Linked DNA regions of Homo sapiens. The protein of the gene in region 3 interacts with the protein of the main gene of each other region in a pairwise test. Each region holds a gene or a part of one and is shown on either strand. Other genes may lie near its edges. The genes, in order: C11orf65, NXPE1, DLST, EGFL8, RAB3C, USP12 and ARHGEF28.

Region 1 (3,500 bases), on a different chromosome or scaffold from region 3:
AATACTTATTTTTATGGAGACAAGGTCTCGCTCTGTCTCCCAGGCTGCAGTGCACTGGTGCCATCATGGGTCACTGCAGCCTCAAACTAATGGGCTCAAGTGATCCTCCTGCCTCAGCCTCCTGAATAGATGGGACCACAGATGCATGTCACCACACCTGGCTAACTTTTTAATTTTTTGTAGAGATGGGGTCTCGGTATTTTGCCCAGGCTGGTCTTGAACTCTTGGGCTCAAGTGATCCACCTACCTTGGCCTCCCAAAGTGCTGGGATTATAGGCGTGAGCCACTGCACTTGGCCTATCCAACAGTATTTAATTACAATCAGACGTTGTGTCTGAATTTGGCTCCTTCTTACTACTGCTACCCCTTGGTGCTCTGCGAACTTTCTTCAATGGCCTTCAATAGGATACTGCTGGGTGACTTAAATGAAAGGATGCAGGACAAGAGCAGGTGGTGTAACTCCTTCCACAATCTCTCAGTAGGCAATTCAGTTTGGTTTGACCTTAAATTTTAGCAGACTTTGTGCTTTCAGTGGTTGCTCAGGAGCACTATAAAGAGTCATCCTGCTTGCTTGGATTTATACACAGAAAAGACTTTCATTCCACCTTCAAGAAACCAAGATAAAAGACCTTGATCGATAGTGTGCTGAGCCCTGACAATCTGGGGCACAAACACTTACCATAGCTAGGCCCCATCACTGTCCCTGCTTTATCCAAGATTAGCACATGACTTTTATTCCATTATTTTAAAAAGAACTTCTCATAAAGAACATACCAGCAGTAATTGATAAGAAATCTAAGTTTTACAGACATAGAAGCAAGTCTGATGAAAGCACTACCATGCTGTTTATATCACAGAGCTCATCTTTCTCACGAAGAAATTTGTAGAAATTTTTAGATAATAGTTATCAAGTGTGTGTGCAGTCTACAATGAATCCATTTGTTAAATTACAAATTTAACACTTTAAGAGCTCAGAAAAAGTCCCTAGCCAGAGAGGTCACAAAACTACATATCTTAGAAATCAAAGGAGCAGCTTCAGATATAGAAACTATCCATAACAGACATAGGCACAGAGCTCTCCCCAACAGAGTATCAGGAAATTATTTAATATTTTCTAGCTGGTGATTGCTTAATAGGTATGTCAAAATTCACTTGCTGTTTGAAAAACGTGATGATCCTGGAAGAGGAACATCTGAATATCCATTAGGATGAATGCCAGCAAAAGCCACGGTAGCTGTCCTGTGGCATTGTGCATAACTCCGTGATGGTGATGTGGGGATTGTTCTGGGTTCTAAACAGCTGCAGCAACATAGCTCTGGATACAGGAATTTGCAACAGTACTCATTAGTGTGTTTGAGTCCACTAGTGAAACTGGCTCTATCCATTCTTCCAAATGATAATAACAATGTTCGGTTAATAGTTGCAGTACGCATCTGAAGATGGACATGGTTTCATCTCAGGAGAGCATCGGTCTGTCATAACGGACTAGAACAAAAGCCTTTGGGGAGAAACTGGTTGTTATCACTAAATATCAGTGTTCAAGGCATTTATGCCATTCTAACTGTCCAACTGTAGAAAAATGTCCATAGACGTTGAAGGATACTTTCCAAGGAATTAGGGGTGACCAATTCTCTAGAGGGGACAAATGTCAGACTTTTAAATTTTCATCAAACAAGGTGTCACCAAGCCAGTTACAAATATCTAGAGGTCTACAAAGGTCAAACGGGGAAGTAGACTGTGGAGACCATAAATGTGCTGGAAAGAAGGGGCTTATGCCTAATGTCTGCAGTTAGCTAGGGGAAGGCCTTTGCAAAGTTTGGTCTTACTGAGATAATCAGTGCTTGTGGCCAAGTAGTGCTACTGAAATATACCCAGATAATCACACTTGAAATTTCATCTGAAATTTTTGTTGTTCAAGGCTCAATGTAAAACCTTGCTAAGAGTCCATGTTGGTACAAAATTATGAGTATCCTCAACTCAGAAGATAAACTGATAGAAATTATACATAACTTGGAAGCAAGGTATTTGCATTTTTTTAATGGAAATTTTCAGTTGCTCTTATCATCTGAAAGCTAGGTATATCCATCCCACTCCTATATGCTATGAAGAAATTGCTTCAAGTCTTACTGGTTTATCCTGGGTTTTTTTGTTTTGCTCTGTTTTGTTTTGAGACAGAGTCTCGCTCTGTCACCCAGGCTTGAGTGCAGTGGCGCGATCTCAGCTCACTGCAAGCTCTGCCTCCCAATGGCATGAATCGTGGGTTCATGCCATTCTCCTGCCTCGGCCTCCCAAGTAGCTAGGACTACAGGCACCCACCACCACGCCCGGCTAATTTTTTATATTTTTAGTAGAGATGGGGTTTCACTGTGTTAAGCAAGATGGTCTCGATCTCCTGACCTCAAGATCCGCCCTCCTCAGCCTCCCAAAGCGCTGGGATTACAGGCATGAGCCACCTCGCCTGGCTGGTTTTTTTTTTATTTATTTTATTTTTTATTTATTTATATTTATTTTTGAGACGGAGTCTCGCTCTGTTGCCCAGGCTGGAGTGCAGTGGCGCGATGTCAGCTCACTGCAACCTCCACCTCCTGGGTTCACGCCATTCTCCTGTCTCAGCCTCCCTAGTAGCTGGGACTACAGGTGCCTGCCAATTTTTGGTGGGTTAATTTTTGTATTTTTAGTGGAGACGGGGTTTCACCGTGTTAGCCAGGATAGTCTCGATCTCCCGACCTCATGATCCACCTGCCTCAGCCTCCCAAAGTGCTGGGATTACAGGCGTAAGCCACCACACCCAGCCTGTTTTTTGTTTTTTAAAGGGAAGCCATTAAGACTTCACCTACTATCACTTAGCGGATGATGGCGGGGAAAGTCTTATGTGGACCGAGATGCCTATTTTTTCTTCCCTTTGAACTCAATGGTTTTATTCTTTTTATATTCCAGTAATGACAGAATATAGAATATCTGGTATCAATTTTTTGTACTTGTTTGCCGGCCCTTAGCTTGAATCGGCCAATGGTACAAGGGAAAGGCAGAGCAGGATTTCAAAAGCTCACCTGAGAAAATTCTCTATCCAGTCCTGGGAAACTCATTCAAAATGGACCTCTCCTACCTCTCTTTCCCTTTCTTCCCTCTCTTTTCCACTCAGCAATTTTTACTCTTAGGAAGAAAAGTAAAAGCAAGGCATTGCAGCTCCTTTGTTTGGCTGTCATTTCTTGCATCATTATTACCATCTGCATTTGTTCAGTGTCCCAGGAACTACAGACATGCTGTCTATAGGGAATCTCAAGACTGAGGTCTGCACAAAATATTGGGGTTATTGAATCATAGCAATTTCTTCTTATTTAAAAATATTTTAAAGCATCTACTATGGACACTTAGTCCTTTATTTTTTATCTTTTCCTTATTATTTTCTGATCTATCCTTCTCATCAGTATCTTCTTTTTTCTTTTATTCTTGTTTTGATTTTCCTTTGTCTTGATCATTCTTCCCCCTTTTTCTTCATT
Region 2 (3,500 bases), on a different chromosome or scaffold from region 3:
CCTAAAATGAGTAAAACTTACTTTACAATACATGTGGGATTATGTGCAGAGATTGGTTCCTAGTGATTTTGTATAGTATTTATCCCTTAGCAAATGTAGTTTAAGAACATGTTAATCTGATTTCCAATCACATGATCAGGTGGGTGGATAGTGTCAGTGCCATATGCAATGGTCATGTCCCAGGCATCAATGATGCCCACGTTGAGGTCTTTGAAAATATCCTTCATGATAAGATAGTGAATATAACCATGGAAGTCTCCAAACCTCTCTGTCTCTATGTGCATCTCCCTGATGTTTTCTGTCTTAATAATCACTTTAGTGGCTGGGCTTCTTAGGAACAGTCTTTCAATAGCCTTTTGAACACCGATGGCCCTGCGAATAAAAATGTCAATGGGAAATGGTCTAAAGTGCTGGCCAAAGGTGATGACGATGGCTGTGTTTTTGTCACCTGATAGCCGGTCAATTTCCCGAGGGATATAATCATGATCTATCAGAGAGTAGAGCTGGAAAGTGACGAAGGGATAGCTATGTTTTTTCCATTGAATCTGAGTGTGTCTTTCTGCATCCAGAAGCAAATGTTTCTTAAAGATTCCAGTTTCATGAAGATCAAAAAACTTCAGTGCTGATAAAAAAACAAATAGATGTTTTAAATAGAAGATAATGGTTAATATTCATGAAAAAGAATGTCCTATCATTTAAAATACCCACCCTACCTAGATAATTGCTCACTGGAGCCTTTCTACTCTCTAGGGTACAGTACCCCCAGTTCATACATGTAAAATGTCAATCAAAAATGTAAAGTTTTCACTGGAATTTTAAAAGAAGACCAACATTTCTTATGAAAGAAGGAATAAAATACATTTTAAATGTAAAGGTTCAAATCCAGAGAGCCAAATGAAGTAAAAAACAAAATAGCTCAAACGAGAGAATAGAGACCTCATTAAAAGTACTTTAAAACCAGCCTGAATTTCTAAGAGAATATAAAGTAACTACCTACTTTTTACAACTTTGGGGAAGTAGTAGATCCACTGACGTAGTGTAGAGTCTCCCAGGAGGTAAATGAGTTTGCCTTTCAAACAGCCATTTATCTTAATTGTGTCTAACTGAACCTGGTTGCAAAATGTTGTTATCCATTTTCCTTGTAAAGTATAACCACCAGGGACAGGAGGCTTCATTCCAACTTGGCATGTCTCTTCTATTTTTTCTCTCTCTGGTAACAAAGACACTCGTAAATGATTTTATTGGCAAAACTTAGACATCTAGCCTTCTTTCCTGGTCTTTCATTTTCTTGCTCTCTTTCCCCCTTCCTGTAATGCCTATTTCCTTTTTCTGTCCCTTTCTAGTCCTATTCTTTGATCATTAGCTTTGCTTCAGGCACTTCTGCTTATTCCTTTAAGAGATTTTGAGTCATCTTGCCTTCTGTCTAATTCCTTTCCTCCTAAATTTGGTCATGAGCTAAATCTTGACGTTCTATCCTTTCTTTGACGTTCTATCCTTTTTTCCTGACTCTGTGGTGACTTCTGTCTTTGTCTCTTACCCAAATGATGTTAGTGGTCTGCCAGTTGGTGCCGCTGTATAAAATTCTTTACCTTTGTTTCATTAATGAAGGAATGAATAATCTTAATTTTTCCGTGTTCAAAAAATGGCTTAAAATATGTACATTAAATATAAAAACCTCAAATAGTATAATAGTCACCTAGCTTGACAATTTTTTGTAAAACCAGACTTTGCTAAAAGCAACATGCAACATCCAATACAAACCAATATTCTGAGATAATCCAGGAAGTTTCACTAGAGTTTCAGGCTCTGTTTGCACATGGTCTGCCTTCTATTACAGGTAGGTAGCAGTGAAGCAAATGTCTTGTTATGGCATAACAAAGGGCATCCAATTTCTCCTGTCATGTTTCCTTACCACTCTCTATGCTGCCATCCCATCACTGAGCCAATGCCTTGTATTTTAGGATTTGTTATATCAGGACTTCTATACTGATACTACGTTCTGTATGAGATAGGAAACCAGTTTGAATGCTGTAAGAAAGACCAAGATAATAATGACTTAAAAATAAAAGATTATTTCTGTCTCACATAACAGGCCTGGAGTGAGAAGGCCAGGGCTAATATGCCATTGCATGGTGTCAGGGACTCTTGTTCCTTCTATGTTGTGGCTATGACATTCTTACTGTGTGGCTTTAATCTCATGGTCTAACTTGGCTCTTGCTGTTCTCACATTATATCTAAAGTTCGGCTAGTAGTAAGGGAAGAAATGGATAGGGAGGGCCAGTTGTTTTGCTTTTAAAGCATGACCTAGAAGTTTCCCACTTGCACTTCTGGAAAAAACTTAGTCATGGCCACAACTAGATATAAGAAAGGATAGCCATGGGTCTAGCCACAACTGGTTTCTATTACTAAAGAAGGAGAAGGCAGTGAGTATTGGGGAACCATCAGCAGTTTCTGCTTTACCCTCCTTGCTTAGTTCCTCAGAGGCCTTGCAGTCTCTGGCTGCCTATGTCCACAGAATAGTGCATCATTACATGGTTGTATTGTATTTGTAACCTATGGACAAAGTGGTAAAATGGTGCTGGTGGCAGAATTGGAAAGTGCACTTGGAATAGCTCTTAAGTCCTGGTGATTTGGCTTACTAAAGGGAGTTTGTATAATCCTATAATTATGTTGGAATTACAGTGTGATATTGATGGGTTTCTATGAGGCTTGATAGCATTGCACCCTAGATGATTGAATACCATGACCCTGGAAACTTGAGATTCATAGTTATTAAGTATTCTTTATCCTAATAATGTACTGGCACACTTTGCTGAGAACATAGCCTTTAAGTGTATTGTTGTAAACCCTATGTTGTGTAATCTTTATGTGTCAGGTATTCATTTTGCCACGTCTCAAACTTATAACAAATTTGCTTATGATTACTCTTACATGTTTATTTTACTTAATAGTTTTAGAATAAGCTTGAGCATTTTGAACAGTATGTGGGTAATAATATCAGGATTCTGTATATCAGGCAAAAGCAACTCCATTTTAGATGCTAATCTGCTATGTTGGCTCCTGATTAACCCCGGTTTATCTAGTGTTTCTTGTATAACAGCAGATAATTATGGTAAATCTTGCCCGTAGGTCAAACAGCCTTGGTGGTATTGTACTTCAATTGTCCTGTACATCCCATCTGAACCACCCTTCCCTTATGCTCTGTAAGCCCTAGATCTGGGGGTAATGGTGTGGAGATCCACCATCTTGTCTCAACAATGGAGACATAAACATGGCTTCTGCTTGTAAGTCCCTACTAAATGTTTCGAGAAACTGGATGTGTCAGACTCTTTTTTGGCCTCTCAGCTTCCTCAAACTTTGGGAGTAGGTTTGCATAGACCTGCCCACTGAGAAATAGATTCCATTATATTTTTTATTAGATAGGGAGACTAATAGTCCCCCAAAGATATCCACATCCTAATTCTTAAAACCTGTGAATATGTTGAAGCAGAAGATATAAA
Region 3 (3,500 bases):
AGTGAGGCCCATCGACCTAAGATCAAAGGTCAGCCAGGAGCCTACACCAACTGTGGAAGTCAGGCCCCAAGGTAACAGGGCCTGTGGAGCTGGGGGAGGGGAGGAAGCCAGAACACGTGCTTCCACCTTGACAGGAGACAGCCTGGAGAGCTGGGCTATCCCAGAACTGCCTGCTGCCTGAGCAGCTGCCGAGCTGTACACTGGGAAGAGAAACTGTTCTGCCCAGCTGGCGGGTAGAAAGTAATCATGATGCTGCTTCAGGAAGGTGAACCAAGAAATCCCTGGGGAAGATACTGATATTTCTATAGGTAGCAAATAAAAAGCCTTGGTCTGTTGATCCTCTGCATGTGGGAGCAGGTCTGTGCTCATACACCTACCTCCCAGGACCTCTCCAATTCCAGCCACAAGCAACTCACCTGCATTTACAACAGGCTGTTCCTGCAAGGCAAAGGCTGAGGCCTTCACAAATGCCGACATGAAGCCTAGTTTGAGGTTATGTTTCTTCAAAAAAGCCTCTTTGTGCCGAGCCCTCATCTCCTGGATGTTACTGTGAAAATATTACAAAACAAACTGACCACAAAGCCTGCATTTTGACTTTCACACAGGTTTCTCAATCCATATACACAATTAGGTGAGAGCTTTTCCCTCACTCTGGACCATTACCTTAGTTCAAGTTTTGAAATAGTCTACCTGAGGTTAACACAGTAACTCTGTTCTTTTACAAAGAAATCTACAGGAATCAGGCCCAATCTGTCTTTAAGGTGGGTTGATCTCTTTACAGGGCTCCTTCATGGTCTAGAAGTCACAGATTTCAGTGACACATCATATGAACAAGAGATCACACAGCACACCAACATCCTTGCCCTGAATAACTGAGCTATCCATCCTGAAAAAAAATTTTTTAAAGTATAAACAAAATCTACAAAATAAGCAATATTCTTTTTATTTCTTGTTAGAATACAAAAAAAAAAAAAAAACCCCACCAAATCTGAGTATAACTCCCGTGTGATATTCCTCCTATCTCTTGATTAGTGGAGACTAAAATAAACAGCTCATGGGTACATGAGGCTCCATGCGGGAAAAAGCAGTCATGACTCTGCAGGGAAGGGTATAACCCAGTGTTCTTTCAGGCCCACGGAAAGTCATATCCGTTCTTCATCTTTCCAGGGTTGGCAGTTCCATCCACTTATTCTTCCAAACAGGTACTAACACCTTACTACATGTGAGGGTCAGGGCCAGGTACCAAGATACAAAGCTAATTAAGACATAGTTCTTGCCCTAAGATTAGTTTAATGGCTGTGATTTCCTTGGTATTTAGAAAAGTGGCCACTTGTGGTTTAGGCTGGTTCCCTTCAGATTAAGCAGCAAGCCTTCTGAAAAGCCTTTACAACATGAGCAGCCTTTATTCTTTTGGGACTGGTTTTTTTTCAATGACACATTGCAGAGTTAGTGAGAAATGGCTTTCCCATCACTTTGCTGCATAAACCTCAGTATTTATCGGAATGCAGTAATGCAGTTCTACGATGAAAATTGAATTTAACTTTATCTCAGGGCCAAATGCTCAGTTCTCCCTTTCTCCCTCTAATGGCCTAATTCGACATTAGCATGAAAGGTAAGATGTGGTACAATTTTAACAGCCCCCTTCAGATCTTTTGTTTTTGAAAAAGGAAGTTTTTCCAAGGGGGACTGATTGGGTTTAAAATGCTTGTTTTCCTGATTCTAACCTTATTTAGTGCTAGGATTACCACCCTAAAGACATTACTGGTTCCCAAGACACAAGAGCTGCAGAAGAGGGAAAGAGATGTGATAAACATCTCTGCTCTCAAACCTGCCCAAATGTTATTGTCTGGTCATTAAGTAGCTTCTATTTCAGAGCTCTGCCCTTGGAGGCAAAGGCTGGGACAATAGAGGAAGGGAGAAGGTCTCAGAAAGGTCCCTTATGGGTTAGCTGATCAGCACAAGACCCAAAGGGCACTCGATCTAAACCAAATTAGGCTGCAGCAAGACCGCAGGCCATTGTTAAGTGACACCTTGATTAGCTGCTGAAAGGAGATCCAGCTATTACGCTTCCTTTCCAATCAAAGCTGTTGGGCCAACTGCATCTTTCAGGGCCACAAATATTTACATGTTTTGTCTTAAGAAACTGGGTAGAATTTCAAAGTCCAATTCAATTTGTGTACAATTTGGCCCTAATGCACTGAAACATAAGCTGCAGCCTTTGTGATTCATTAGTCAAGGTCCTTCCCCTACATCCTATGAACAAGAGAGAAATCTTTGGCTTGAATGTCATCCAGTCTCTTCGGAAAGTTTCCCAACAGAATGGATGACATCTAGTAAAACAGGTCACAGAGCCCTACTCTGAACAATGCCACAGCGCACTATCAAGAAAACACTCCCTTCTCCCTATTTTTCAAACCCTTTCCAAAGAAAAGCAAATTTCTCTAATGAAAAGTAGATTCGCAGACTAAACCCTCAGGACAAAAAGAAAGAAAGAGATGACCTGAGACTTGACTTGCTTCCTGAATTAAATATAAACTCCTACCCTGGCATTCAAAACATTCTGAAATAAGGATCCAACCTTCTTTACCATTCTTTGCTATACAAAATCCTCACAACAGAAATGATTTTTGACAATTTCTCAAATGTGTCTTCTACTTTCCCATCTCATGGTCTACACTGTTAACATCATCTGGAATGACCTTTCTCCACAAGGCTGACAAAATGCTAGTCACTCTTGAAGACCTGTTTAAAAATTCTTTTTTGGCCAGGAATGGTGGCTCATGCCTGTAATCCCAGTGGGAGACCAAAGCAGGAGGATGGCTTGACCCTAGACGTTCAGGAGACCAGCCTAGGCAACACAGCGAGACCTTGTCTCTACAAAAACTAAAAAAATTGGCCAAGCCTGGTGGCACATGCCTGTAGTGGTCCCAGCCATTTGGGAGGCTGAGGCAGGAAGATCACTTGAGCCTCCCAAGTAGCTGAGACTATAGGTCCATGCCACCATACATAATTTTTTTTTTGAGACACAATCTCGCTCTGTTGCCCAGGCTGGAGTGCAGTGGCGCGATATCAGCCACTGCAACCTCCTCCTGGGTTCAAGCAATTCTTGTGCCTCAGCCTTCCGAGTAGCTGGGATTACAGGCATACGCCACCATGCCTGGGTAATTTTTGTATTTTTAGTAGAGGCAGAGTTTCACCACGTTGGCCAGGCTGGTCTCGAACTCCTGGCCTCATGTGATCCACCCACCTCAGCCTCCCAAAGTGTTGCGATTACAAGCGCAAGCCACCGCACCCAGCCCTCACTTGGCTAATTTTTAAATTTTATGTAGAGACAGTCTTGCTATGTTGCCCAGGCTGGTTTCCAACTCCTAAGCTCAAGCGATCCTCCTTCCTCACCCTCCCAAAGCTCTGGGATTATAGGCACGAGCCATGGTGCCCAGCGTCTATCCCCACTGAATTCCACAGTACAGTACTCTGTATACAGTACGCACTCAAAACAC
Region 4 (4,067 bases), on a different chromosome or scaffold from region 3:
GAATCTCCTGCTTCAGAGCGCGCTCATCTTTTTCCGCCTCCCGAACTAGGGACAAAGGAGACCAAGAGTGTGACCACTACCCGAGCCCGGACGCCCGTCCCGAGTCCCTCGGGTGGCCCGTACTCCTGCCCACTCACCGGCCACGCTGAGTATGCTGGCACTGGTTGGGGGCTCTGGGGACCCCTCCATGCAGGTGCGCCCGTCCACGCCTAGCACTAGGTCATGGGGGCAGCCGCAGGTGAAGCTGCCTGCCGTATTAAAACAATGGTGCGAGCAGAGGGTGATGCTGGTCCTACATTCATCCACGTCTAGTTACCGAAAAAAGGAAGGGGCTGAGAGAGGGGGCGGGGGCAAGCACCTGGGTAGGTGGGGAGGACAAGCTGACTCACCCACATGACAGTGCTTCCCTCCCCAGCCGGGGGCGCACTCGCACTGGTCAGGCCTAACGCAGACGCCTCCGTTCAGGCAAGGCTTGGCGCAGATGGCTGAGGACAGAGGAAGTGGGGTTCAGACTCAAACCGACGACCCAGCTCCCCAGCTCCGTGGGGCGCGCCTCCCGCAAGGCCCGGAAGACCCAGCCTCACCTTCACAGGTGAGCGCCCCCGGGTGCCGCTTCTTCCAGCCCTGGCAGCACACTGCATGGGTCTGCTGAACCTCCCGCCTCACCTCCCGCCACATAACGCGGTACATGGTCCTGGAACACAGCGCCCGGCTCAGGACCCTGAGTACGGGTCCTAGTTGGGGTTCTTGGGGTCCCATCTCCCCATCCCTCACCTGTAAGTGCTGCAGATGCGCCTCCCAGCGCACAAGGTCAGGTAGGGCTTGTACACTGGTTGGCTGTAGGACTCGTTGTAGTGGAGCGGGACCACCAGTGTCTGCTTGGAGCAGACTCCCTGACTGCGTCCATGCCAGAGGATGAGGTGGGAGAGATTGAGTAGGCCAGGCCCTGGGGAGCCAGGAGTCCCACTTCCCTCAAGAGGCTACTGAGGCCCCCCGCTCTCCCTCCAGATGACAGCCTCTCACCCCCATTCTAAACTTACAGTTATGTTTTGCCTCCTGTGAAGCCCCACCCCCAGCAGAAGGCTCCTGAGAAGAGCTCACCCCGGGCCCTACCCCCTCTGTTGTCACCTCTCTCTGAGGGATCCACCCTTGGCCCCCTCGCCTGGTATCAGTAGCAGGAGGAAGGAGAATCCGCCTAAGAGAGTGCACAGCTCAGCCCTGGACCCCATGATTCGCTTTGACGCTGGACCCTACAGGCTGCAGGCAAGAAAAGGTTAATGGATGCCCGTCCCCTCTCCTATTAATTTCTCCAGCACTAGTCCCTCCAAGGGCACTCTGCAGGTACCCTCTAAGGGAGTCAGGACATTCACTTTTACATACTAGCCACCAGGATTGCCTACACCTGTGTGTACAACCCAACACTATCCTGTCCTTAGCATATCATGATCCTTTCAGCATCATAAAAGCTCACACCCCAGCACACTCCCTCCACCTCCCCTCTAACCTACTTACTTCTAATCCCCTCTGCACAACCTGGAGGGACACACAGTCAACCCTCCCCTTATGACCCTCCTGTCTTTTTTTGGGTTTTTTTTTGTTTTTGTTTTTGAGAAGGAGTTTCGCTCTTACTACCCAGGCTGGAATGCAATGGCATGTTCTTGCCTCACCGCACGACCTCCGCCCCCCAGGTTCAAGTGATTCTCCTGCCTCAGCCTCCCAAATAGCTGGGATTACAGGCATGCGCCACCACGCCTGGCTAATTTTGTTTTGTTTTGTTTTGTAGGGTGTGAGGGTATATAGCTAGGGTTTTTTTTTTTTGGTTTTTTTTTTGTTGTTGTTTTTTGAGACGGAGTCTCGCTGTCACCCTGGCTGGAGTGCAGTGGTGCGATCTCGGCTTGCTGCAAGCTCCGCCTCCCGGGTTCATGCCATTCTCCTGCCTCAGCCTCCCGAGTAGCTGGGACTACAGGCGCCTGCCACCACGCCCGGCTAATTTTGTTTTGTATTTTTAGTAGAGACGGGGTTTCTCCATGTTGGTCAGGCTGGTCTCGAACTCCCGACTTCAGGTGATCCGCCTGCCTTGGCCTCCCAAAGTGCTGGGATTACAGGTGTGAGCCACCATGCCTGGCCAACCCTCCTGTCTTTAACATGCCCTCTTATAACTTCATACCTTCAAAACCCTAGCTGGTTGGGCGCGGTGGCTCACACCTGTAATCCCAGCACTTTGGGAGGCTGAGGTGGGTGGATCATGAGGTCAGGAGTTCGAGACCAGCCTGGCCAAGATGGTGAAACCCCATCTCTACTAAAAAATACAAAAAATTAGCCAGGCGCAGTGGTGGACGCCTGTAATCCCAGCTACTCGGGAAGCTGAGGCAGGAGAATCCCTTGAACCCTGGAGGCAGAGGTTGCAGTGAACCAAGATCATGCCACTGCACTCTAGCCTGGGCGACAGAGCAAGACTCCGTCTCAAAAAAACAAACAAAACAAACAAACAAAAAAAACCCCTAGCTATATACCTTCACACCGTACACACAAACCAAGCACCTGGAAACTCCACACCTTTCACACACTGCTACTCCCCTCATATACCCACACCGTCACATAACGCCCTAAATGCACATCCCTTGCTCCAACAAAACACCCCGCAACTCATGCCCACCCTAAGGCTCTGAGTAAACCCCACTCTTTCCCCATTTGAAATTCTCTCCCCACTTGCCTTCCTCTCTCTCTCCATTCCCACCTGGCTTCTTTCTCCTGGGAGGCTTCAAGCAGACCAGCCTCAGCAGAAGCAGCTCAGACTGGTGGGTGGGCCTGGCAGGCTAAGAAGGAGAGGAGGGGCTGGGCCAGAGAGTCCTCCCATTCCTGCCCCCTCCCACAAGCCTCCTCCTTAGCTCCAGCAGGGTCAGCTCAGTAGGGTCAAGTCCCACTACCCTCATCCCCACCCCAGCAAAGGGCTCCCTAGAAGTATCTTTCCAACCCTCTGAGGCCCCTATTTCTGGACTCCCCAGATCAGAAGCTATGAGCTCTGTAACACCACCAGTACCCCCTTGAACCCAAAACAGACTAGGGGAGAGTTAGGGGGCAGGGAGAGAACCAGCTGCAGGGAACAAAGCAGTTCAGGTTATGGGAGAAAAAGCAAGATCAGCTGAGGAAAGCTAGAAGGGCAAGTCGTCACAAAGGGGCAGGGGGGCAGCCCAGGGCACCAAGGGGAAAACTGCCCCCCTCTCTTCATGACATTTGTTAGGGCTTAGGGGGAACAGAATTGAGTCAGCCACCACCCCCCATGCCAGAACAGACAGGGCCCTATTGTCTCAGCCAAAATTCCTTCTTTCAAGGAAGAGGAGGCTCATTGTCCAGCCCTACACCCAGCTCTGGCCCACAAAGCTCAAAAGCGGCACAACGAATGCCCACCCTGACCCTCTGCCCCCTCGTCTAGCCTGGGGGTGGCAGGCGCATTCCACCCATGAGGCTGAGGCCCAAACCACTGGAGCCCTGAGCTTAACCCCCCAGTCTTGGGGACTGGGAGAGGAAGAGAATTGTCTTCAGCAGGAAAGAACCCGCAGAGAACCAGGAACCCACAAAGAATGGGCATTGAGAGAGAGCGGAAACACCAAGGGGGTCCCCACCCTAGACCAGGCATCTGGGCACCCAGGCCTCAGGCTCCACCCCCACCCTCCTTGGGGAGCCAGGTCCCCTCCACCTGGAAATGAGCCAAGTCACACTGAGGAAATGGAACTTTATTTCCATAAATACAGGGATAACACCTATTCAAAGGTAGTTAAAAGAGGGCCTGGGGCCTCAAAGAAACTAGGCTCTCCCAGGGGGGTACTCCAACACTGATCATAGGGACTGGGGGATCCCCAAACCTGAGATGGGCCTCATAGGCCACAGATATTCCCCAACACTGACACTTCAAGAACGGAACTGTCCCCATAGGGGAGCCTCAGAACCCCACTCTCATGGGTAGTCCCTCTTAGGAGTTGGGAGGGCTGATGTCAGGGGACTTTAGAGAAAAAAGGGAACATGGGGAGGAGAGAAGCTAAAAATGTCCTGAGTGGCCTGGAAGGAGA
Region 5 (3,500 bases), on a different chromosome or scaffold from region 3:
TTTTTCCACTGATCCTTCCCAATTCTGTGAATATTCAACATCATTGAACAGATTGAGACATATCTACTGAATGCCAGTTATGCAACAAGCATTTTAACCAAGAAGGGTATGAGTAGCTATGGAATTCCAAGGTCCAAGCCCCCTTATTTTTCAATGACTTGCCTTCCCCAACCCCCATAATGCACACCACCACCACCATCACTTTCTGGAACCATCACCAACTCTTGGACTAGAGCTTATGTTGAAGCTTGTTAGGGCTCCTCTTTCCGTAGGATGTAGACTTGCCTCCCCAAACACGGCCATCTTCTCAAACCTCAGCTAAGTTCTTTTACCTGTTTAGATGCTATTTAAATCAGATTTCAAAGGGTCCCCAGTTGAGAAAAAGGAAAATTTTAATCTTTAATCATCTTTTTAAGTCCAGATGTTCATAAATTCTAAAGCATATTCCTATTACGTGAATGCTTAAGTTACACAGGAAACATTCTATAACTGTAGTATTTCAATTTCAGAAATATTTAGGATCCATAGCAATTTAAAAGAGGGAGGAAACCACTGGAGCATTCTAATTTTGTATCACAAACTTCCTAAAGGACCTATATGAATAAAGAGAAAACAACAAATCCTACCAGCTGTACAGAGAGCAACAGGGAAATTTGGCCTCTGTATCACTGTCCAGCATTATTTAAAGCTAGGATTTAGGAAGGAAGCAGGAATTATTTGGCAGATTTGGAAGGATAGTTTCGTTAAGTGAACTTTCTACTTTTTTGGTGGTTATGTCAAAGAATTTTTTTCCTCTTCTCAAAAATAGAGAGGCTTCCCATGAAAGTATTGGATGCAAATGAAACAGGCATACATCTAAAGATATCTTTGGAGAATAAATCCTTACAAGTCACAGAACTAGGTCACACACATTAGTAAGTCAAAAGTTGGAAATTAGGGGAGAGAGCATTTGGAATGCTTTAAGCATTTCCATGTTATTTCTCACCTTCCTAGTTGAAGATCCACTAATCAGTAGTACATTTCTACTTTGGTGCCCTACAAAGCAAACCTTAGCATAGTAAAGACAAGAAAACATTAATGTTTTATTAGTTTTTAATGGGGCAACCAACTTCAAAATCACAGGAATTACAGTGACGGGAGAGAAAGAAGCAGGAGGCATAAAAACAGATTTGTTTGTAGCAGTAGTCTGTTTGTACAATGTTATAATATTTCTGTAACTTGGGCCAGAATGTGGCCATGTTAAATGATATAGCTATTAAGCTCACTTTTACAATCTAAAAGGAACTAATAAAGCCAGGAAACCCTTCTCATCCTCCTTCACAGCCCTCATCCCACACATAGATGTAAAAAGCTTAGAAAGAATATTCTGATGGCTTTTTCAGAAGGAAGGACCTTGATGTGTGTATTGTGGTAAAATGAAAAGCAAAATGAGACAGTATTTAAAAGTGAAAGAGCAGAGTTTTGCTCTGCTGAAAACCCCTTCCCTGAAGAACTGATTGCTGTTGAAGTTAATTGGCCCTTAGATGGGAAGCCCTAAGCCAAGCTCCCACTTACACAGTGTCAAACATCCCGAAGTGGAAACATTTTATGCCAGTCAGGGGAGAGACAGGCAACAATAGCCCAAATGTCATTGCCAAGAAACATCTGATACTTTCTAATTTCTAAACCCCAATGGAAGTGAGGCCTTTTTCATTGATTCTCAGTTCTGAAACTCCCACCCTGTTAGGATTTCCATTCCAAATAATTCAATGAGAGGTTTCCAGAGAAACAGTCACAGAGCTCAAGAGAAAGAACACTTAAATGCTCCTGCTGTAATTGCATCAAAAAATCCGGGTTTTAACATCAAATTTGGCAAATGGTGGGACCAACCCAAGGTTAACTAAGTGGGCTTTCATTGGCATTGAGCTATGTTACTTATAAATTATAACACTATAGTTCCAAGGTTTTTCAGCCTTTTGGCCAACACACACACACACACACACACACACACACACACACACTATACCATCATCTATCAATAGTCTAAATACATAAATAAATGCAGGTCATTTTTATCAATGGCCTAACTAAATTTATATTTAAAAGAACAAGACTTTTAAAAAGTACATACTCCTGTTGGTTTGTAAGTTATACACATTTATCTCTTGTCTTTGATTTAATTAAATTAGTGTTTTAAGTATGAATTTATTTTCCTTTGCTACTCATTACCTGACCACTTTCACTCCTCTAGATACCCTTAGGAATAAACCTGAACTGTTCCAAATCGATTCTTCCAAGAGCTTTGGTGTTGGTACCTTCCTTTCTTTTCCTAATGCAACTGAAAAATTAGACTGAAAATTATTTGACTTAAATAGCCATCCTCAGAGTGAATCAGCATTTCAGTTTTTGGAGATGGGGATGGAAGTAGAAGGTGCACAAAGCGTCCTAAGATGGCAGTTTGAATGTTAGCATCGCATCTACATGCTCATAAGAGGAATTGCTTCAGGACAATGAATCAGTTCATTGTTGCTGCCCCCAGTGAACAGCTCCAACTGCCTTGATGAACTTCTAATGACTGTGAAAGCTAGGAGGTTCTTCTAGTTCCTCCTTAGGGTCACTTGAAGTTCAGTATTTTTTTGCTGCCTGGTAACTAAGTGCTAAGATTTTTACTTGGAAAGAAAACTATGACAATGCCTTCAGTTGTAGCAGAAAGTTGTGGCATTGTGATAATAAACAAAATCTACAAAGTTACAACCCAAATTATACAAGACATCAAAACACTCAGTAAACAAATATATATATTTCACCTACTTAAATCTTATTCATATTAATTATAGGCCTTTTGTTTAGTACACTGGTTATTTTTTAAGGAACCAATTTAAACTTTCAATTTTAAATACATCTATGCTGACGATAGACTTTCGGGTATATACAACCTTCTTCTTCTCTTTTAAAAGTTAAATACATTCCACTATTAACTGAACTTCCATGAAGCAACATTAATTTTAGAGCATGGTAGTCCATAATCAGTGGTTCATTGTGATGTGCTTTATCCAACATGTATCTTAGTGCATGGTTGAGGATGTACTATGTGATATTTTAGTTAACAGTGTGGCATTTGTGGGACTATATTAAAAGCATATCCAAACTACCAAGCTATACCAAGCTGAGGTAGGTAACACCTGCATGTGAAAAACTGTGATATGAATCTTATTTATAAAAAAGTCATAACTAAAACCCTTCTAGACCAAAAAGTTACTGTGTGTTTGTTAATAATCTTCATAGTACTACTGGAATGCTCAATCAGTTATTTTTGGTGTGGCATACTTCAGAGCTGGCCTGTCCGTCTGAAGAACCCTTTCTCTCACAATTACAGTTTGCATGACTAGAACCCGGAACTCTGTTCCTTTGCGTGTATAGTCACTTAGTGTGCTGTCCGGGTGCCACATGAGCAACTACACCCATGTGGCCTTTCTGTCACTCCCTGGAAAATGCAACCTCTACAGCTCTGCTCAGCTCTG
Region 6 (3,500 bases), on a different chromosome or scaffold from region 3:
CCAAGTGCTGGGATTACAGGCGTGAGCCACCGCACCTGGCCTCCCTTGTTTTATTCTAGGTGTGTAAAGGTTAGGTGACCACTCAACTGCTGGGCTTGGACGTTGCAGAGTAAGAAGTAGGAATTAGACTACAATCTATAGACCCAGACATTTGTCTCATATCATCACCAGTCATATATAAATGAAAAACTATGAGAAAAAAGTGAAAAGCAACATATGCATACAACTTTCAAAAATAAGAAATTAAGAAACTACTTACTTCTACAATGTCGTCATCAAACAACAACCAAAAATCATGACTCTTAACTATTGCAATATAATGGCCTCGATTGGGACCACTAAAACAAACGAAGAAGAAGTTAATTCAATATATTTATTAATATTACTCTTTCATGCTCTAAATTTTGTTTTATAAAGAAACAGAAACAGATAAATAGCAGTAAAAAAGAACTGCTTCTTTTTTATACCCCTTACCTATTCTTGCCAAAAGAGATAAAGCTACACTGAGTTGAACTGGTCATCAATTTTAAAATCAAATAATTAGTACTCTAAGAGATATATCAGTATTCTTTTCACATACAGCTATATTACTGAAATTTTTTACTGTCTTTGTAATAATTTTCAATTTTGCTTCTATAATAAAAGACATATTTTTCTATCATTTTATAAGGGAGGGGATCACAGCAGAACATGCTGAGTTGGACTATAAAACAATGCATATAGAATTATTTCTAAGTCTCACTCCCTTGGTAATGGTTTTTTTCTTGAGGAAAGATCCAATATGATGCTTGAAACAGGCAAGGATATCAAATCCTTGGTTCCAAAATCAAGCCTGAACTTCATAAAATGTCTTTAAAAGCAAATGACCTTTGCTCAATGGTAAGTCATTATTAAGTACCTAATTCTTAATACCATTATAACTATGACTATGATTGCCCCTGCATCTCATTTCAAACAAATCTGGAATATATAAATGTAGATATACATAAAAATAAAAGAAGCATAATTCCTTTTCTTTATAAAAGGATATGACAAAGGTTTTAACCTCTTCCAGTTTAAGTATGGTTCATTATAAAGGCTCATATAATTATATTTATTAAATTGTAATTCTATAATTAATACAGAAGTTAAAATCCTTTTCAACACAAATTATTCTTTATGGTGAACACTATTTTAAAAGTAGTGACCAGATATTAGAATAAGCCACCTACTATAATATCTTATGTTTCTCAGATCATTTGATCCTGTAGGTGAGATAAATATCTTTGACAGAATGACACCAACAAAAATACTTTTTTTTTTTTAACTATGGAGGATGACACATCAAAACTTTTTCTTAAAAAAGCATTTAATGCTTTAAGTCTATTTCTGTATTTATTTAGGCTCATCTAAAGGGTCTTGTGTGTTATGGGGAGAGGGTCAGAAATGAAAACAAAATTATAAAAGGTGAAATAAAGAAAAATCAAAGAAAGGTTGCAGAACACAGGGTGGAAGGAAAGGAGGTGGGTGGGGTAAGGACTGGTAAATTGAAAAAAGTTAGGCGGCTTTTTCCTTTGGCAAAGAACTAGTTTGAGGAACAGTAGACAAAAGTTAATTTCATAAACTAAAAATGAAATGAGAGATGAAGGGCTGAACTTCCACCTAAGGAAGTTGTTTCTTAGGCATCTGATTTCTGGACATTAAACACACTCAGTTGAGTAGATACAAATGCGTAAGGTATGCAAATAACTATTGATTGCTGTGGAGATTAAAGAGATACCAACAACTGCTTGCCCAAATACCCCTTCAGTACAATAGATAACTACTCCAAAAACATAATCCAAGGAAGAATATGATATAAAAGTAGAGCCACAGGAGAGACCTCATCCAGCAAGACAGGAGGTAGAAGGGAGAGAGGGATGGGAAATCACGAAATGGTGCCCAGTTTTGACATGGGCTTGAAGGGTAATACTTAAGTCAACAAACATTTGCTAGAAGTCTCTTCTAGGCTGGGCACCGGGGACAGAGAAGGAGCAAGCTGAACTGGAACTGACATGCTGATAATGAGGCTGCGCACACCCTCCACACTTTCATATGAAGCAAATCTACAAATAAGTCTGATAAATAAAATACACAATGGAAAAAGATTCTAAAATATGATTAGTCTTTTATTAGTGAGCAAATTATTTTCTGTTTTAAAAAGCACCTGTTCTCATAAGGGAAGTAGACATACATCCTAAGAGAGTACATAAAGCACTAAGACAGGGCTAGCAATGCACGTCTAGTATTTATGTGAAGACAATGGAGCAGCACCACATGGAGACTGAGGCTGGGCAGAAGAGCGTCAAGGAAGACTTCCAGAGCGGAGGGGCAGGAAGGCATGAGGCAATGAGAGTGAGACAGGAGAAAGAGTAAGACCCTGGGGTGGGGGCGGGATACCAAAGACCTGCTGTGCAGAACTCCATCAGGAGAGAGTTCCCAGTGAAGGCAGACCACCAGGGCTGTGAGGAAAGTCAATAAACATCTCTCTGCAATTTTCTGCAACAATTCTGACAGTAGGGATTCAGACAGCTGGCAAGAGGATTTTACAGTGCTTGTGAGAACATGCTTTAAATAACTGACTGTGGAGTTCAAGTTGGGAGAAGCAAGTGAGGCCAAAGAAAAGGTTAAAAAGGGAAAGGGTCAAGAGACTTAAGGATTTAAGGCTGGGGAAAGAGTTGGGTTAATTTTAAAAGGGGAGAGTGGGGAGGGGACCCCTCCCCAATGAGTCAGGCATCTCAGCTCAGTATATTGTGAGTAGAGCAATTCTAAAAATCTAGCATGATTTAAGTAGAGTAGGACTGTCACTAAATTTGAAGAGGCTAATCGGTGTGAGAAAGTAAATATTATAAAGCTAAGATGTGAGAAGGTAATATTACATTTTTGTTAATAGAACAGTAGCAGTAGCTAAGCGATTTACATCTCCCTTTGAATCCTAACAAAGCAATGTGGTAATTAGTATTATTTACATTTTCTAGAAGAGAAAACTGAAGGCTTTTCAGGAAGCTATGCATAACGTTACACTGCCCACAATTGGCAGAAATGGTACTGAGATCCAAGTTTCTCTCACTCTGAAAACCCGGTCTGAATCACTACACCAAGGTTCTTTAAGTAATCTTGACACTGCTTCACTCCTTTAAGATGTGATCACTCTTAATTTAGAAGTAGAAGAAAGATTCTTGCTGAGGATAAAAGACGGGACCCAAGGCTGACCCAGGCAATGGAGGAAGAAGACGATTATTAAAGAGCATTTGCTCCCTCCAGATTGTCCTTAAAAATTCTCATCAGAGGCCGGGCGCGGTGGCTCACGCGTGTAATCCCAGCACTTTGGGAGGCCGAGGCGGGCAGATCACGAGGTCAGGAGATTAAGACCATCCTGGCTAACATGGTGAAACCCCGTCTCTACTAAAAATACAAAAAATTAGCCGGGCGTGGTGGTGGGTGCCTGTAGTCTCAGCTACTCGGGAGGCAGAGGCAGGAGA
Region 7 (3,500 bases), on a different chromosome or scaffold from region 3:
TAGTTGAAATCTTAAGCACCTTTTTATTAACACTAAAACATTTTTACAAGAAGACTAAAAATCAAAGGACATAAGACCTTTGTCTCATAATAAACAAATTTCTGTCCAAGTTGGAACTTTTCTAACTAAACATCAAGGAGTCCTTGATACTGTTTTATTGTCAGTGAGCAAGATATCAATATTTCTGGTGATCAAATGGGAGAAGAAACAATATACATGTATTTTATATAACAGTTACATATGTCAGGAAACATAGAACTTAAGAGAAATACTTCTATTTCACTCCCCCTTAAAAATCCGTCAGTTAAAACCCTATTAAAGCATTGGCAATGCGTTTTGTGCATTGTTCTTTTTCTCCAAGAATAGGAATGGCCAGCTGAATCCTGCTACATCTCTAGGGGCTGTGATAACTGCTATAAAAGCAACTTCCAGAAATCCATTCCTGAAGTTTTTGACAAGTTGCAAAGTTGACAACTCCGTGAAAGACAACACTTACATTAGATGAGCTGATTCTTATACCTAAATGTGGGTTTCTGATAATAAAAAAGGAGACAGGTTATTCCACAGAGTGATAAACCTGGACTTTAATTTCCCTACTACACTACCATATCCAAATTCCATCTCCACCAAGCTTTATAAATAGCCAATGAAATCACTACCTAAAGAAATCATCACAGTTTATAGAAACAACCAAAGTCCTTCTATTTGGAAAAGACATTGATTCTTGGAGATATGAAGAGATTACTTTCAATGAGCTCAAGACTAAAGCCAGGTCTCCTGATTCCTAGGTGTGTGCTATTTTCCACTCATACATAAATGATAAAAAAAAAATGGCTTTCTTTCTTTTTTTTGAGATGGAGTTTCACTATTGTTGCCCAGGCTGGAGTGCAATGACGCGATCTCGGCCCACTTGCTACCTCCGCCCCCTGGGTTCAAGCGATTCTCCTGCCTTAGCCTCCCGAGTAGCTGGGACTATAGGCATGTGCCACCATGCCTGGATAATTTTGTATTTTTAGTAGAGACGGGGTTTATCCATGTTGGTCAGACTGGTCTCGCACTCTCCACCTCAGGTGATCCACCTGCCTCGGGCTCCCAAAGTGCTGGGATTACAAGCGTGAGCCACTGCACCCGGCCCATGAATGGCTTTCTTTTTACTCTCTTCCCTGGCCCTTTGCAAGAACAAACATGAGGGAGTCATGCTCTTTAGAATTGTATCAGACAGTCTAAAGGCCCAAATAACCTGAGGTTTCCTAAAAATCTAAGGATACTAAAATTTTTATTTCAACTATTTTTAAAACCAGAATGTCAAGAAAGGAATAGGTTGGCTTGGGGCTGGTGATAGAGCATAGAAGACTGATCAAGAAAAGAGATTTCCTCCATGTCTATTTGTATTTTGTCTCCTTTTAGAAAGGAATGATTTTTTAATTAAAAAGGAGAGAAAGAACATCTCTAAGTGAGAAAGTCCATTGTAAGAGAGCATCAAGCTGGTCTGAATCAGTTCCAGGCTGCTGGACATGCCAGGATAGTAAAGAATCTGATGAGATTTCCTAACCATAATCCATCAGGAACTGTGGACAATGACAGAGGGATTCGATACAGGAGACAAGCACATGTCATTCCAACTTTCAAAACGGCAGATTCTACAAATTATAGACAGAAGGCATTTCATGTTGATCCTAGATTAAGATTCTAGAGCAGATTATTAAAAGTGTGGTGTATGAGGACCTCGAAGAAAAAGCAGTGGCATTTTGGAGCCAGTGTGTGCTCCCAAAGAATAAGTCACTTGAGAATAACCCCATTTTATTATGTGGTGATAATTTACCAGACTGTTAGACAAAGAGATATAATAGACACAGTATATATCTTTATGAGGAGATGGGGGATTAAGAACCAGATGCTGATACAAATAAGTAGTAATTAGTTGAACAAGCCTACTTGAAATTGATAAACATCAACCTGAACTGAAGTTTGCATAGACACATCAAATGGCTCTGCCCTAGATTTCAGCCTAAATAACACTTTTATTGTTTCCTCAGGCATTGAATAAATGTTTATCAAACCTATGGATACCTTGAGACTAAAAGGGGTAGTGAATATGAAAAATGTATAAACACTCTAAAAGACTAGGAAAAAATGGTCAAATACAGGAAAATAAATTCAAGAAAGATAAATATTAAGATTATTCATAAGACTAAAAACCCAATTGCACAATTCCATGAATGAGGATATATGGCTCCATAGCAACATACATAAAAAGAAACTAATTTTGAGATGACTATGAACGTGGAAACTCAACAGTACAGTTAAGAAATACTTTTAGGCCAGGCATGGTGGCTCATGCCTGTAACCCCAGCACGTTGGGAGGCCAACGGGGGTAGATCACCTGAGATCAGGAGTTCGAGACCAGCCTGGCCAACATGGTGAAACTCCGTCTCTACTAAAAATATAAAAATTAGCTGGGCATGGTGGCATGCACCCCTAATCCCAGCTATTTAGGAGGCTGAGACGGGAGAATTGCTTGAACCCAGGAGGCGGAGGTTGCAGTGAGCTGAGATCACACCACTGCACTCCAGCCTGGGTGATGGAACGAGACTCTGTCTCAAAAAAAAAAAAAAAAAAAAAAAATTAAAGGTATTGTTTATTGAGGAGTTATTCTCTTAGGTTCTGTGCTAAACACTTTATATAGACTATCTTATTGAGTCCTTTTTACAATCTTATGAGAGAAATAGACAAAAACTGAGGCTAAAAGTTTAGGTGACTTGGCCAAGACAAGCTAGAAGCAGCAGGCCATGAGTCTCCCCAAGTCTCTCTGACCTGCAGCTGCTAATCTTAACCATGAGGTGTCACTTCTTCCCTAGAAGAAAGGGGGACAGATCTGTGCTCTACACCAGAGGTCCCCAACCCCTGGGGCCAAAGACCAGTACAGGTCCATGGCCTGTTAGGAACCAGGTCACACAGCAGGAGTTGAGCAGTACGCAAGAGAGTGAAGCTTCATCTGTATTTACAGCTGCTCCCCATCGTTCACTTTACTGCCTGAGCTCCACCTCCCGTCCGAGCAGTGGCAACATTAGATTCTCATAGGAATGCGAACACTACTGTGAGCTGTGCATGCAAGGGATCTAGGTTGGGGACTTCTTATGAGACTCTAATGCCTGATGATCTGTCACCGTCTCCCATCAGCCCCAGGTAGGACCATCTAGTTGCAGGAAAACAAACTCAGGGCTCCCACTGATTCTACATTATGGTGAGTTGTATTATTATTTCATTATATAAAATGTACAATAAACATAATGCACTTGAATCATCCTGAAACCATCCCCCTCACCAAAGTCCATTGAAAGACTGTCTTCTACAACACGAATCCCTGGTGTCAAAAAGGTTGGGGACTGCTGCTCTACACCGTCAGATAGCATCTGGAAGAACTATACTTTAAAAAGAAAATAGTGAATTGGAATATGTCCAATATTCAGGTTTGTGAAAGGATTCAAAATCATGTCACT

What was found.
Region 1: the proteins of DLST (region 3) and C11orf65 interact in binary tests that used the Homo sapiens proteins (3 or more experiments, as listed by UniProt).
Region 2: the proteins of DLST (region 3) and NXPE1 interact in binary tests that used the Homo sapiens proteins (3 or more experiments, as listed by UniProt).
Region 4: the proteins of DLST (region 3) and EGFL8 interact in binary tests that used the Homo sapiens proteins (3 or more experiments, as listed by UniProt).
Region 5: the proteins of DLST (region 3) and RAB3C interact in binary tests that used the Homo sapiens proteins (3 or more experiments, as listed by UniProt).
Region 6: the proteins of DLST (region 3) and USP12 interact in binary tests that used the Homo sapiens proteins (3 or more experiments, as listed by UniProt).
Region 7: the proteins of DLST (region 3) and ARHGEF28 interact in binary tests that used the Homo sapiens proteins (3 or more experiments, as listed by UniProt).

What each region holds. Positions count from the first base shown.
Region 1 is NC_000011.10:108,387,530-108,391,029, forward strand, and holds part of C11orf65 (protein MFI), read right to left. Parts: intron 1-3,500. UniProt on the Homo sapiens protein: Acts as an inhibitor of mitochondrial fission. Interacts with MFF and prevents DNM1L recruitment to mitochondria, promoting a more fused mitochondrial network.
Region 2 is NC_000011.10:114,521,882-114,525,381, forward strand, and holds part of NXPE1 (NXPE family member 1 isoform 1 precursor), read right to left. Parts: intron 1,211-3,500; coding exon 998-1,210; intron 623-997; coding exon 87-622; 3' UTR 1-86.
Region 3 is NC_000014.9:74,895,416-74,898,915, reverse strand, and holds part of DLST (dihydrolipoyllysine-residue succinyltransferase component of 2-oxoglutarate dehydrogenase complex, mitochondrial isoform 1 precursor), read right to left. Parts: intron 548-3,500; coding exon 417-547; intron 1-416. UniProt on the Homo sapiens protein: Dihydrolipoamide succinyltransferase (E2) component of the 2-oxoglutarate dehydrogenase complex. The 2-oxoglutarate dehydrogenase complex catalyzes the overall conversion of 2-oxoglutarate to succinyl-CoA and CO(2).
Region 4 is NC_000006.12:32,163,328-32,167,394, reverse strand, and holds the start of EGFL8 (epidermal growth factor-like protein 8 precursor), read right to left. Parts: upstream 2,801-4,067; 5' UTR 2,738-2,800; exon of another isoform or gene 2,714-2,737; intron 1,258-2,713; 5' UTR 1,230-1,257; coding exon 1,129-1,229; exon of another isoform or gene 898-1,128; coding exon 775-897; intron 695-774; coding exon 585-694; intron 486-584; coding exon 390-485; intron 309-389; coding exon 138-308; intron 46-137; coding exon 1-45.
Region 5 is NC_000005.10:58,852,075-58,855,574, forward strand, and holds part of RAB3C (ras-related protein Rab-3C), read left to right. Parts: 3' UTR 1-3,500.
Region 6 is NC_000013.11:27,070,812-27,074,311, forward strand, and holds part of USP12 (ubiquitin carboxyl-terminal hydrolase 12), read right to left. Parts: intron 339-3,500; coding exon 260-338; intron 1-259. UniProt on the Homo sapiens protein: Deubiquitinating enzyme that plays various roles in the regulation of the immune response and inflammation.
Region 7 is NC_000005.10:73,632,696-73,636,195, reverse strand, and holds part of ARHGEF28 (rho guanine nucleotide exchange factor 28), read right to left. Parts: intron 1-3,500. UniProt on the Homo sapiens protein: Functions as a RHOA-specific guanine nucleotide exchange factor regulating signaling pathways downstream of integrins and growth factor receptors. Functions in axonal branching, synapse formation and dendritic morphogenesis.